Linked DNA regions of Homo sapiens. The protein of the gene in region 1 interacts with the protein of each later gene in a pairwise test. Each region holds a gene or a part of one and is shown on either strand. Other genes may lie near its edges.

Region 1 (4,849 bases):
AGGCGGGCGGATCACGAGGTCAGGAGATCGAGACCATCCTGGCCAACATGGTGAAAGCCCGTCTCTACTAAAAATACAAAAAATTAGCCAGGCGTGGTGGCGGGCACCTGTAGTCCCAGCTACTTGGGAGGCTGAGGCAGGAGAATGGTGTAAACCCGGGAGGTGGAGCTTGCAGTGAGCCAAGATCACGCCACTGCACTCCAGCCTGGGTGACAGAGCCAGACTCCATCTCAAAAAAAAAAAAAAAAGTTATTTTGATACTTTCTCCCTGGAGCTAAATTCAAGAGCAAATCCCTTCAAAACATGATAATGCATTTTTAGAGATAGCAATGTTGGAATATTAAATAAGTAAAAAACAACCAAGTGAATCAAGGCCTACCTTATTTTATATCATTGAATTTGTAAATTCTCTTAATAAAGCTGCATATATTCACAACTCAGTAATTTAAATTTATAATAGAAATTTATAACCCAACTAAAAGAAATCCATTGCCATATAACTAAAATTATGTAATCATTTATTTATAAAATAACAAAAATTTATGAATAGATCTGTTTATTGTACTGTGAAAAGGGTCTTGGTACATGAAACATTATATACTTTGAGGACAGCATTCAGAACTGTTAAGACAAAAGACAAACTATAATTTTAAACTCAATCTTGATTTAAGGGAAAGGCTATAAATTATTGGCTGAAAAGTATTCAGCATGAACTCAGATTCTATATAAGCATGAAAGAGTACAAAAGATGTTGGAGTCCAGTAAGCCCATACCTAAATTAACTGTAAAGCTTCAAGGACTTTTTGTTTATTTTTATATACTAGTTTTCTTCTGTGACAAGTTGATTTTATCTCCAAGACTTAAGGCCATTCCCTGTAAAGAAAAATTAAGATATTTATAATTATTTAAACTATGTACAATCAGTAGGTTATTCCATATTATTAAGCCCCAATTCAATTCAATGACACCATTATCAACAATAAAATCAAGGACATACCAAACAGACTTACCAAACTTTACTGGTAATTACCTTTCAGTGCTAGATTTTTCAAGCCGTCACCAGATTTTTTTTTTTTTTTTTTTTTTTGAGACGAAGTCTCATTCTGTCACCCAGGTTGGAGTGAAATGGCACAATCTCAGCTCACTGCAACCTCCACCTCCCGGGTTCAAGCAATTCTCCTGCCTCAGCCTCCCGAGTAGCTGGGATTACCGGGTGTGCGCTACAACACCCAGCTAATTAGTCACTAGATTTACACCTTGGCTTTCAAAAAATTCTAGAGAACCCATTTCACAAACACCCCATAGGAATCAATCTGGTTTTAGGCAAATATCCCAGAATGAGGGGCCCAAAAGGTGAGAAATTTTAATGAGAAAAGTTATACTTCTATTCAGAGTATATTATTATTGTATGTGTATATGCATCTAATGCTAAAAAGATACTACATATAGAAATAATAAAGTCATAAATTCCTCCCCCCTTTGTCAGTCCAGAGATACTCTCAAAAAAAAAGGAACTGTTACCTGGCTCTTTGCACGAATTCTTATATGGCCGGTAACAGCAGCATCTGGTCCCTGGTGAATTGGCTTCTCAATGCTGACATTTGCAAGTGCATCTTCACCAAATATGGAACGAGCATAAAGGTTGGCTGCCATAAAGCCACAGTAACCAGAAAGGGCCTGGAAAAAATTTGTGATAAATTCATTACTTTACCAGATACCTACATAGAGGCAAAAACCAAACAGCATAGGTGACTTTTTTTTTTTTTTTTTTGAGACAGAGTCTCACTCTGTTGTCCAGCTTGGAGCTGGAGTGCAGTGGCGTGATCTCGGCTCACTGCAACCTTCCTCCCAGGTTCAGGCGATTCTCCTGCCTCAGCCTCCCAAGTAGCTGGGATTACAGGCATTCGCCACCACACCTGGCTAATTTTTGTAATTTTAGTAGAGACAGGGTTTCACCATGTTGGCCAGGCTGGTCTTGAACTCCTGACCTCAAGTGATCCACCCGCCTCGGCCTCCCAAAATGCTGGGACTGCAGGTGTGAGCCACCACGCCCAGCCCCATTGGTTATTTATCACTTAAAACAGTACTTACATACAGGGTGGTGGTTACATAATCTTATGAGTTTGTCAAAACTCAACTATACATGTAAAAAGTGTGAATTTTACTGTGTATTATACCTCAATAAATCTGATGTTAAATAAATAGTTCTTAATCCGATTTGTATTTATATATTCTGTTTACTTAACTTGCTTGACTGCCTCCCATATCAGACCTTAAGCGCCATGAAGGAAGAGACTACTTTTGTTGGACTCAGTATATGCTGAATAAACTAATATATAAATTAAAACCTACTTGTTTGGTAGCAGACATTATTTTATTTATAAAATGAATATTATAACATTATAGAAATTTTACATAAAGAAAAAAGTTCCTTAGAGCTCCAGCTTCATTTTTCTTTCTCTCTCGTTTTTTTCATACATACACAAACATAGCAAAAAGTCACAGTATAACAACGATTCTGTATTTGAGCACATATATTTTAACCAACAATCAGAGCCCACGGAAGAGCTCATGGACATTTTCTAATCCAGTATTACAAATAAACGATTTTATTTATCTTTTTGAGACAGAGTTTCACTCTGTCACCCACGCTGGAATGCAGTGGTGTGATCTCGGCTCACTGCAACCTCCACCCCCTGGGGTTCAGGTGATTCTCCTGCCTCAACCTCCCAAGTAGCTGGGATTACAGGCACGTGCCACCACACCTGGGTAATTTTTGTATTTTTAGTAGAGATGGGGTTTCGCCATATTGGCCAGGCTGGTCTCAAACTCCTGACCTCAAGTGATCTGCCCGCCTCAGCCTCTCAAAGTGCTAGGATCACAGGAATGAACCACCATGTGCAGCATAAACTACTTTAGAATGTGCCTCTAGCTGAATGGGGGAGAAGATTGAAAAGAAAATAAAAAAAAAATTAATCTGACTATTCAGTTGGGTCACTGCACTAGGAAAAAGTAGGATGGTATAGTCCAATAGAAAGAGGTAAGCAGATTCCAACATTCTATGGGATAACATCTTTTAGATAGCCTAGAATGGTACTGCATATTGAATAACAAAAATGTGCTAGAGGAAATACAGGAAGGCCAGGAACCTACTCTACCATTCCATCAGATTTCTGAATTTCCTAGTCAAATTTTACCTTTTCTGGAGTCAGGCATTTCATATTGGTTGACTTTAATATGTGCTGTAAGTAGTCATTTAAATCAACCATGTTGGTGTTAACTGTCACCTGTAGAGAGGAAAAAAAAGTCAAGGAGATCATAAATCTTACTATGAGAAAGCTGTGAATCACCAGTATGTCATATTAAAAACTTGTTCCAACTGTTTAGGTTGGAAAGAGTAGACACCAAGAAACTAAATAACATCTATAAAATCCAACAAGCTGTAGGTTGGTATCAGTACTTCCCAATAGAGATAACTTCACAGAGATTCAATATGAAGCATATAGAATATTTCTTTTTTTTTTTGAGACAGGGTCTCACTCTGTCACCCAGGCTAGAGTGCAGTGCGTCATTTCAGCTCACTGCAGCCTCAACCTCCCATGTTCAAGTGATCCTCCCACCTCAGTCTCCGGAGTAGCTGGGACTACCACACCGGGCTAATTTTTGTATTTTTTGTAGAGATGGAGTTTCACCATTTTGCTCAGGCTGGTCTAGAACTCCTGAGCACGAGCAATCTGCCTGCCTCAGCCTCCCAAAGTGCTGGGATTACAGGCACGAGCTACCGTGCCCAGCCTCATATAGAATATTTCTAATAAAAGTCAAGGCTCAAAGGGACAAAGTTCCTCAACAGACCATGAACTTTGTAAAGCCTTTTTCGGGCACTAGATTAAATGGTAAGCTCTTGGTCATACATAGAAGGGATGGAATATTACCTATAATGTCTAAACCTATCAGATTGGCTATAGAACTGCTACTCTAATCAATTTATAACAGCAAATTACCAAACTACTTACATGATTTTTAGTTAAGGCTAATTTGCAAGAACAGATACTGAAAGACTATTTGCTTTTCATGTTAAACACTTTTTAGCGAGATTAATTTTATTAGCAGACTCCTCAACAGCAGGCAAAAGGAAGAAAGATAAAGGAATATGAGAAAATCTCCCAAGGACTAACTTTGTTTTCCCATTCAAATTCGGCCCACATCTGACGGAATTCTGCATCAGTGCAAGTTGCAGGCTGGATATAGTCCATGATGTCGATGTGAATATCACTGAGAACCACACAATTTCTGTCACTTGCTGCTCCAGAGACATCATAAACTGCAATTACATATACAAAAAGATTCGCAATCACTGGGGCAAACTTGAATTTAAAAAATCTTAATATCCAAATATCCAAAGAACTACACTATTAACAATAAGATTGTTTATATAATACTTATTATGTACAGAGCTCTATTCTACATGCTTTATAAATATTACTGGTTTAATACTCCCATCAATTCTGATAGTATTATTATTTTCCATCTTACATATGAGGAAATGAAAGCAGAGAAGTTAAGTAAGTTGTTCCAGATCACACAACTGATAAGTGGTGGGGATAGGATTCGAACTCAGGCACACTTTGTTTTTTGTGGTTAAACAAATAATTCAATTCAGTGAGTACTTACATAGCAGTTGCAGCATACTAGGCACTGCAGCAGATATACAAGTGGACGATGTTCCCATAGGAGGTACTTAACTAATACTTTTGAATAAATATTGCTGACCCATACTACTTAATGATACAAGATTAGTCATCCCTCAGTATTAATGGGGAATTGCTTCCAGGACCCCCTATGGATACCA
Region 2 (6,718 bases), on another chromosome or scaffold:
GAAGTAATTAGAATATTCTTCCAGTAATAATCAGTGATAAGTATCAGTTTTGCCTTCTTATATGACTTGCCACACATAAACTTACCATCTGTTCTTTTCTATAGTTAATAACACAAAATATTAGAAATTCCTGTGTAATGATGGTTTAACTTGTTCTGTACAGTCATTTCCCTTTTATGTAGAAATTTGATGAGTATACTTTATTTAAGAGTATTTTTTTTAACATTGTTAACCATTCCTAATTTCTTGACACTCTGATTCTTTTTTCTAACTCTTCCCATTGGCAACTCCTCTACCTGACTCTTGTGGGTAGTCCCCAAGGTTCTAGCCCTGGTCAGACTTCCTTAGCAGGAAAGCAACCACTCTATGCCACCCTCTCCTCTTTTTTTCCCTAAAAAGAAATTTTATCTGAAAATCATTAAAATGTAGATTGTCTCTTTATCCTTAGTAATATATTATCCTTAATACTGAAAAAATCATGCTAAGGTACATAGTTGATGCTTAAATGTGTTAAAAGAGTGAATATTGTTAATGACTCTTAATATGCAAAACACATAAAATACTACTTTATTACTATCATAAATATTTTATAAATTCCTATTTAAAACATGATAAAAATCAACAAAAATACAAGGTACTATATTCTTAGCACTTGTAGTATATATCTCAATGTTCTAAGTATATGTACCTTAGAACATTGTTTAAATGTTTATGGAATCCCTGAAGCATTTCAGGAAAATAGCTTGAAATCACGGCTCTAGACCTATTCATCTTTTAACGTAGGTCAACATGCGACAATATTTAGGATTAATTATCCTGAGAGCTTTCAATTCAACATTAATCATGCAAAAAAATCACATGCACAAAGAATATTGATTACTAAAATTGGCAATATATACATAGTCATGGTTAATTAAGCACCACATTTTTATTATACATTTTTCTTATGTTCCCTAAGAGGATATTATCTTTGGGGAAAATTTTAGAGAAAATTTAGATCTACTTTCCCATCATAAAGATTTTTAATAATTCACTATTTAAATGGTCTTTTGTTTCATGAAGTTTTACAACAATACTAAAAAGTTCTGGAAATATCACTGTTTTGGTTTTTGGTTACTATACAGTTTTCCATCTCTATGATCTCGTGATGTTTGGTATCTAGTCTCTCTTTCCTAATACGAATAGAGTACTATTAGGACTCCAATTGTCAATACCAGTCCTCAGGACCTTTCCTAACTTTCTACCTAGCACCTCAATACTCTCTAGGAAACTGCAATCTGACAAAGGGTTTAGAACATGTATGCAATCCTCATCTTTTTTCCTCCTCTCTGTCATTCATTCGTTCATTAAAATTTAGTTGAGTCAAATACTTGCCCAGACAGGCAAAAGATATGTTAGGAACAAAGCTTTTCTATCTTATATTTCTTATCTTAATCTTCTGCCTCTTAAATGAAGGTCTTAACTTCCTTATTAAAATATAAAATCCAACTTGAGGTTTATATAAGATACATATCTTGAAATGGTATAAAAAGTAATAAAAATTTCCAGGTACATACATACTAAAACAAACCTGGAAAGGTAAGTTTGAAAAAACAAAATTTGTGGCAAGAAACTATAACATATAAACAGGATTATTTTGTTGAAGTTGTTAGAAAAATAAAGAGAGCCACAAGGATAAATTATAATTTGTCCTTGTGTGGTAAGATTGTTCCATCAATGGCCCCCAATGAGTCATACCATCCGCTGTCAGCTTGTGTAGTCCCCTCATTCTGACTCTAGACTTGGCCATGTGATTTGCTTTGTCCAATGGAACATTAGTAAATATGATAGATGTACAGGATCGATAAGCTCTTGCATATTGGAGCTTGCTCTCTTAAGATGTTTTCTCTACTATGGAAAGAAGATTCGTCTAGTCTACTGGAGGCTGAGAGGCCCTGTACAGCAGAGACAGCCAACTCACTGAATCGTGAAAAATAATAAAAGTCCTTGTTTTAAACCACTGAGTTTTGGTGTGGTTTGTTATGCAGTGATGGATAATGTGAAATCTTATCTCTCTTTGTCTATGTCTGTGGCAGAGCAACTGGCTAAAAGTTACATAAAGCTATACTTAATTTGAAAATAATAATAAAGGTCTCTCAGTAAACTTAAAAAATATTAGACCTGCTGTTCTCTAGCATTTCCTCCTCCATGTAGACTCAGTTATTCAATCCACTTAAATACATATGTACAATACTCAACATTTAACTATTATCCTGTACATCTTATAGGTACAGCCTGTAGCAACTAATCAACGAACAGAGTACACAATAAATATTTTTATTTTTAAACACTGAATTGTACATCTTTCATATAAAACATGAGATTCTAGCCTGTTTTAAAAAATAAGTATACTTGCTAGTACTATCTTCACTCTTTTTTTTTTTCAGAAGCCAATGTTCTCTAAATCTGCAGCTTCATTCCACAGCTTTACAGAATCATAATCTCTTGAATATATTTCCAATGTTATTAAAAAATAAAAAATCATACAAGATATATTTAGCACATTAAAACTTAAGAGGTTACAGTATAACTGTCCAGACCTCCAGGTACCACTGAATACTTTTCCAGTACAAAGAGGCCAATATGTTAGAATAATTAATTCTCTGTATTTACTTTTATTAAAAAGAGGTTTTTGGTAGTAAGAACAAATAATCTCTCATTTGTTGCCTGAAATCCTAAAATAGGATCATTGGTTTCTAGGCTTGCTACTTGCTGCTTAGCAACCTGTCCTACTTGCCTGCCTTCCTTTCTGTTGTAAAGTACAGTGGACATGGGAGCAGGCTGACGATAGATGAATACTCGACGAAGGCACTCACAAAGGGCTGCATACGAGTAATTTGGAGCACAGGCAAAAAATTTTTTGTCTCTCTTTGATGCTTGGACATAGCCTGCCAAGAATATGAGACAAACAAAAGAAAAACTATATATTAAACAGAAGGGGAAAAATGATGATTTAACATTTAATATTTTGCAATGTTTATTACAAATTAAAATGCCCAAGTAAAATATATACCATAAGGTATATAATTCTGAATCATTAACGATTAGCCACAATCAGTCTCTCCCATCTGGTACAAAAATACGACTTTAATTCCTAAGGAACAAAACAGATATGGCTTTCTCGCTTCAAAAAAAGCGTAATATAGCTTCATTTAATTTCCACGAATAATTCGAACACTAAAATTCTAAAATCTAAAACACTCAATACATGACAAAATATCTTTAAGTGCCAATTTAATATTTAGCTTCGTGAGTTACGGATAGGGCATCACAGAACCATTTTTTTCCTCTTAAATAAATTGGAAAATGTGTATAGGATACCATCATAAAGTTATTTTAGTTTTCTGTTCATAATGTATCCCTGAATGTACTAGTATTCGTGATGCATTCTCTTATTATCCCTAAAATGTTAGTGATATTTTTATACATCAATACCAACACTGTAACTGGATTTTTTTGTACTTTTAGCCCCCACAAGTAGAATGTTGATCACTATAACTTCAAAAATAATTTCAAGTCTCTAAACTGAAAAAAATCCTTATCTTAATTCATGTACATGTTTAAAAAGTATCTTTTTGGATTAAAACAACATTTATATTCCAAAATATAAATTATGATTTTTAGATAGTGACATGGTTAGCAAATGTTAGGTATTTATGATCATGTAAAATAAGAATATAACATTAATTAAAATTGAGATCTCATCAAACAATGAATAAGCAAAGGAACTACTGAGCACATGCAGATCAATACTGTTTTTAAAAATATTAAGCAGGTTTGAAGCAGGAAAAGTGAAGATTTAGATACCTATTTAAATAGTTTAAAGTAGCTATCCAGGCTAACCTTGACAGAATAATGTATATAATATTTCAAGAGTACATATCTAATATATGTTGATTTAACTTAGAATTAAGCATAGAATTCCCCTATAATAGGGGATTTGGGGATACAAATAGAACATCTGAGCATCTAAAGATGATATGATAGAGCTTTCTTCTGACCAAAGTATAGATAATTAAAAAATAGCATTATAGTAGGGAGGCTAAAAATTATATGGTTAAATTAGTTAACCAAACTTTGTACTTCAGGTCATAAAAATCCATTTGGAGTCTGAACCAGTTTAGCAGCCTACATTATTAACTATAAGGGATAATTAATAAATTTCTTCTACAATTAGGGTTGTGCACATATAGCCATCAAAATACGTAACTTCACTTCTTGCTGCCTGTTTAAAATAACCTTTCAATAAAGCAACAACTGTGGCTAATTCACATAAAAAATTTCTGTCACACAATACTAATGCATTTTGACAGAAAATCAATGATTGCATACGTCTATAATTAAGTAGTTTAAACATTGTCAAGCCCTAATTTTAAAACTGATTTTTTTCCTTTTATCCTACCAAATAAATTTAATTTCTGCTTATCACCGCTTTCCATAAGTATTTTCATTATAATGGCTCTCTTTTGTACTTAATTTTGACAAAAGATGTCTCCTAATGTGCATTACACCTTAGGGGAATTCTATGATGTTTCTGAAGATTACTCTGAAGAAACTTGAACACCAGTTCCATGTAGGGTATTATCAAGCTCCTTGCTCAGACTCCAGTATTATATGGCTTACAGAATTAGAAAAAGCAAATGACTTATTAGAATAATTCAAGTGGTTAGATAACCACTTTCATTTCTATTCTGTGTTGATCTTCTGTACAAGCATAAAAACAGATTAGTCTAAATGTTCCAACAGTGCTAACACTCACAACTAGTACAAGCAAACAAATCATAGCGCAAATCAATCTAAATGTAATCAGGACAGCTCAAATTAAAAAGAAAAAAAAGAAATGAACTTTAAATGAATGATGACTGTATTTCTGATTTCATGGAAAATGTCAAAGAGTTTGCTTTATACCTAAAGCATTGAAAGTTGCGATGTGCTCCCACATATCATCTTGTTTGCTGGAGTGTGGTTGCCAGAGTAGGGCATCAACATCATGGCGCAAACAGAAGCAGGGCATTTCTTTAGGATCCACTATGACAGAGAAAAGGTACTGGTTGCTTCCAAGATTCACCTAAAAAGTGATTTAAAAAAAAATTTACTCAACAACAAATTAATAATAGCAACAATAACAATGGCAGAAGCTGACAGCCAGCATTAAGTGTCAGCAACTGTTTTATACTTTTTATATACTTAATCTGATTGACTCCTCATAATATCCCTGAGATAAATGTGCTACTGTTATGTTCATTTCAAAGCTGAGGAAAGTGATGCACAAGGCATTTAGGTAACTTGTCGATGGTCAGCCTGGCCATAAGTCATGGAGCTGAAATTTGGACCCAGAGTCTATGTTCTTAATCACCACGTGATATACCACCTCTTAATTGTTAGTAAATAGTTTAAAACACGATATAAAGCAGGGGTCCCCAGTCACTGAGCCGCAGACTGGTACCAGTCAGTGGCCTTTTAGGAACTGGGCCGCACAGCAAGAGATGAGCAGCAGGCAAGGGAGCATTACTGCCTGAGCTCCACCTCCTGTCAGATCAGCAGTGGAATTAGATTCTCACAGGAGGGTGAACACTATTGTGAAATGCACATGCAAGGGATCTAGGCTGTCTGCCTTATGAGAATCTAACTAATACCTGATGATCTGAGGTGGAACAGTTTCATCCTGAAACCATCCACCAAGCCCCCACAGGCCCATGGAAAAACTGTCTTCCACAAAACTGGTCCCTGGTGCCAAAAAGGTTGGGGACTGCTGATATAAAGCACCAATTTTATAAGCAGACTATTTTTAGGCCATAGAATACACACATGAAGTTTACTAATGCTAACTTGTAATAATTACCAAGAACAATGACACTACCAGAATTTATGAGCACACTCTCATAACATTTATAACCAGGCATGTTATAAATACTAATCTTAACAACTCGCAAGGCTATTATTATCTTCATTTAAGGGATGAAAGAACAGGCTTGGAGAGTTTGAGTAACTTGTTCTAGGCTAAAGAGAAATATCACAATGCTGGAATTCACACTCAGATGTTTAAAACTATTTACTTAAACGTACTGCTTAATTAAAGTATCAATGTCAATATGTCAATAATGTCAACATTTGTTATTGTAACACATCAATAATTGTTACTGCAATATTGATGCCTAAAGAAATGCATTTTAATACAAAATCATCAAATTGAAACTCACTGAATTTCATCTACAGCAATACTTTTTCTAAATGAAGACATGTTGTAAGGATAGTCTTCTTTATGAGAAATGTTATTATCAGAGTTGAAAATACGAAACAGAATACCAACAAAAATCACATCAAATGTAGAAAATATAAAATATGCACAGTACTTATAAATATGTAATTGATTCTAGGAGTTTGCAAGCAGACTGGAGAACCGTAAAAGATTGGGTTAAAGTAAGAAGTGGAGACCTGACCTGAATTCAACAGGGAAAGCTGTGAAGTGGCTCTCCAGCAAGGGGACCTATTATTGGTAAAGCTGTGACAACACAGGCTATTGGTCACAGGAGAATACAGTGTCAGAGCAACCCATCTTCTGCTCCCCAGCAATGCCAGGGAAATAGGGCTTTTTCGTAGAGCCAGTGCTTGCTCTCTACAAAATAAGGGGAGAAGGCCAGCACACAGAGACCACAGACTATTTCTTTTCTCTCCTTAC

The links.
Region 2: the proteins of COPB1 (region 1) and NUDCD1 interact in binary tests that used the Homo sapiens proteins (3 or more experiments, as listed by UniProt).

Annotation. Positions count from the first base shown.
Region 1 is NC_000011.10:14,457,011-14,461,859, forward strand, and holds the end of COPB1 (coatomer subunit beta), read right to left. Parts: intron 4,322-4,849; coding exon 4,176-4,321; intron 3,288-4,175; coding exon 3,198-3,287; intron 1,678-3,197; coding exon 1,522-1,677; intron 874-1,521; coding exon 814-873; 3' UTR 502-813; downstream 1-501. UniProt on the Homo sapiens protein: The coatomer is a cytosolic protein complex that binds to dilysine motifs and reversibly associates with Golgi non-clathrin-coated vesicles, which further mediate biosynthetic protein transport from the ER, via the Golgi up to the trans Golgi network.
Region 2 is NC_000008.11:109,240,375-109,247,092, forward strand, and holds the end of NUDCD1 (nudC domain-containing protein 1), read right to left. Parts: intron 5,108-6,718; coding exon 4,948-5,107; intron 2,928-4,947; coding exon 2,635-2,927; 3' UTR 545-2,634; downstream 1-544.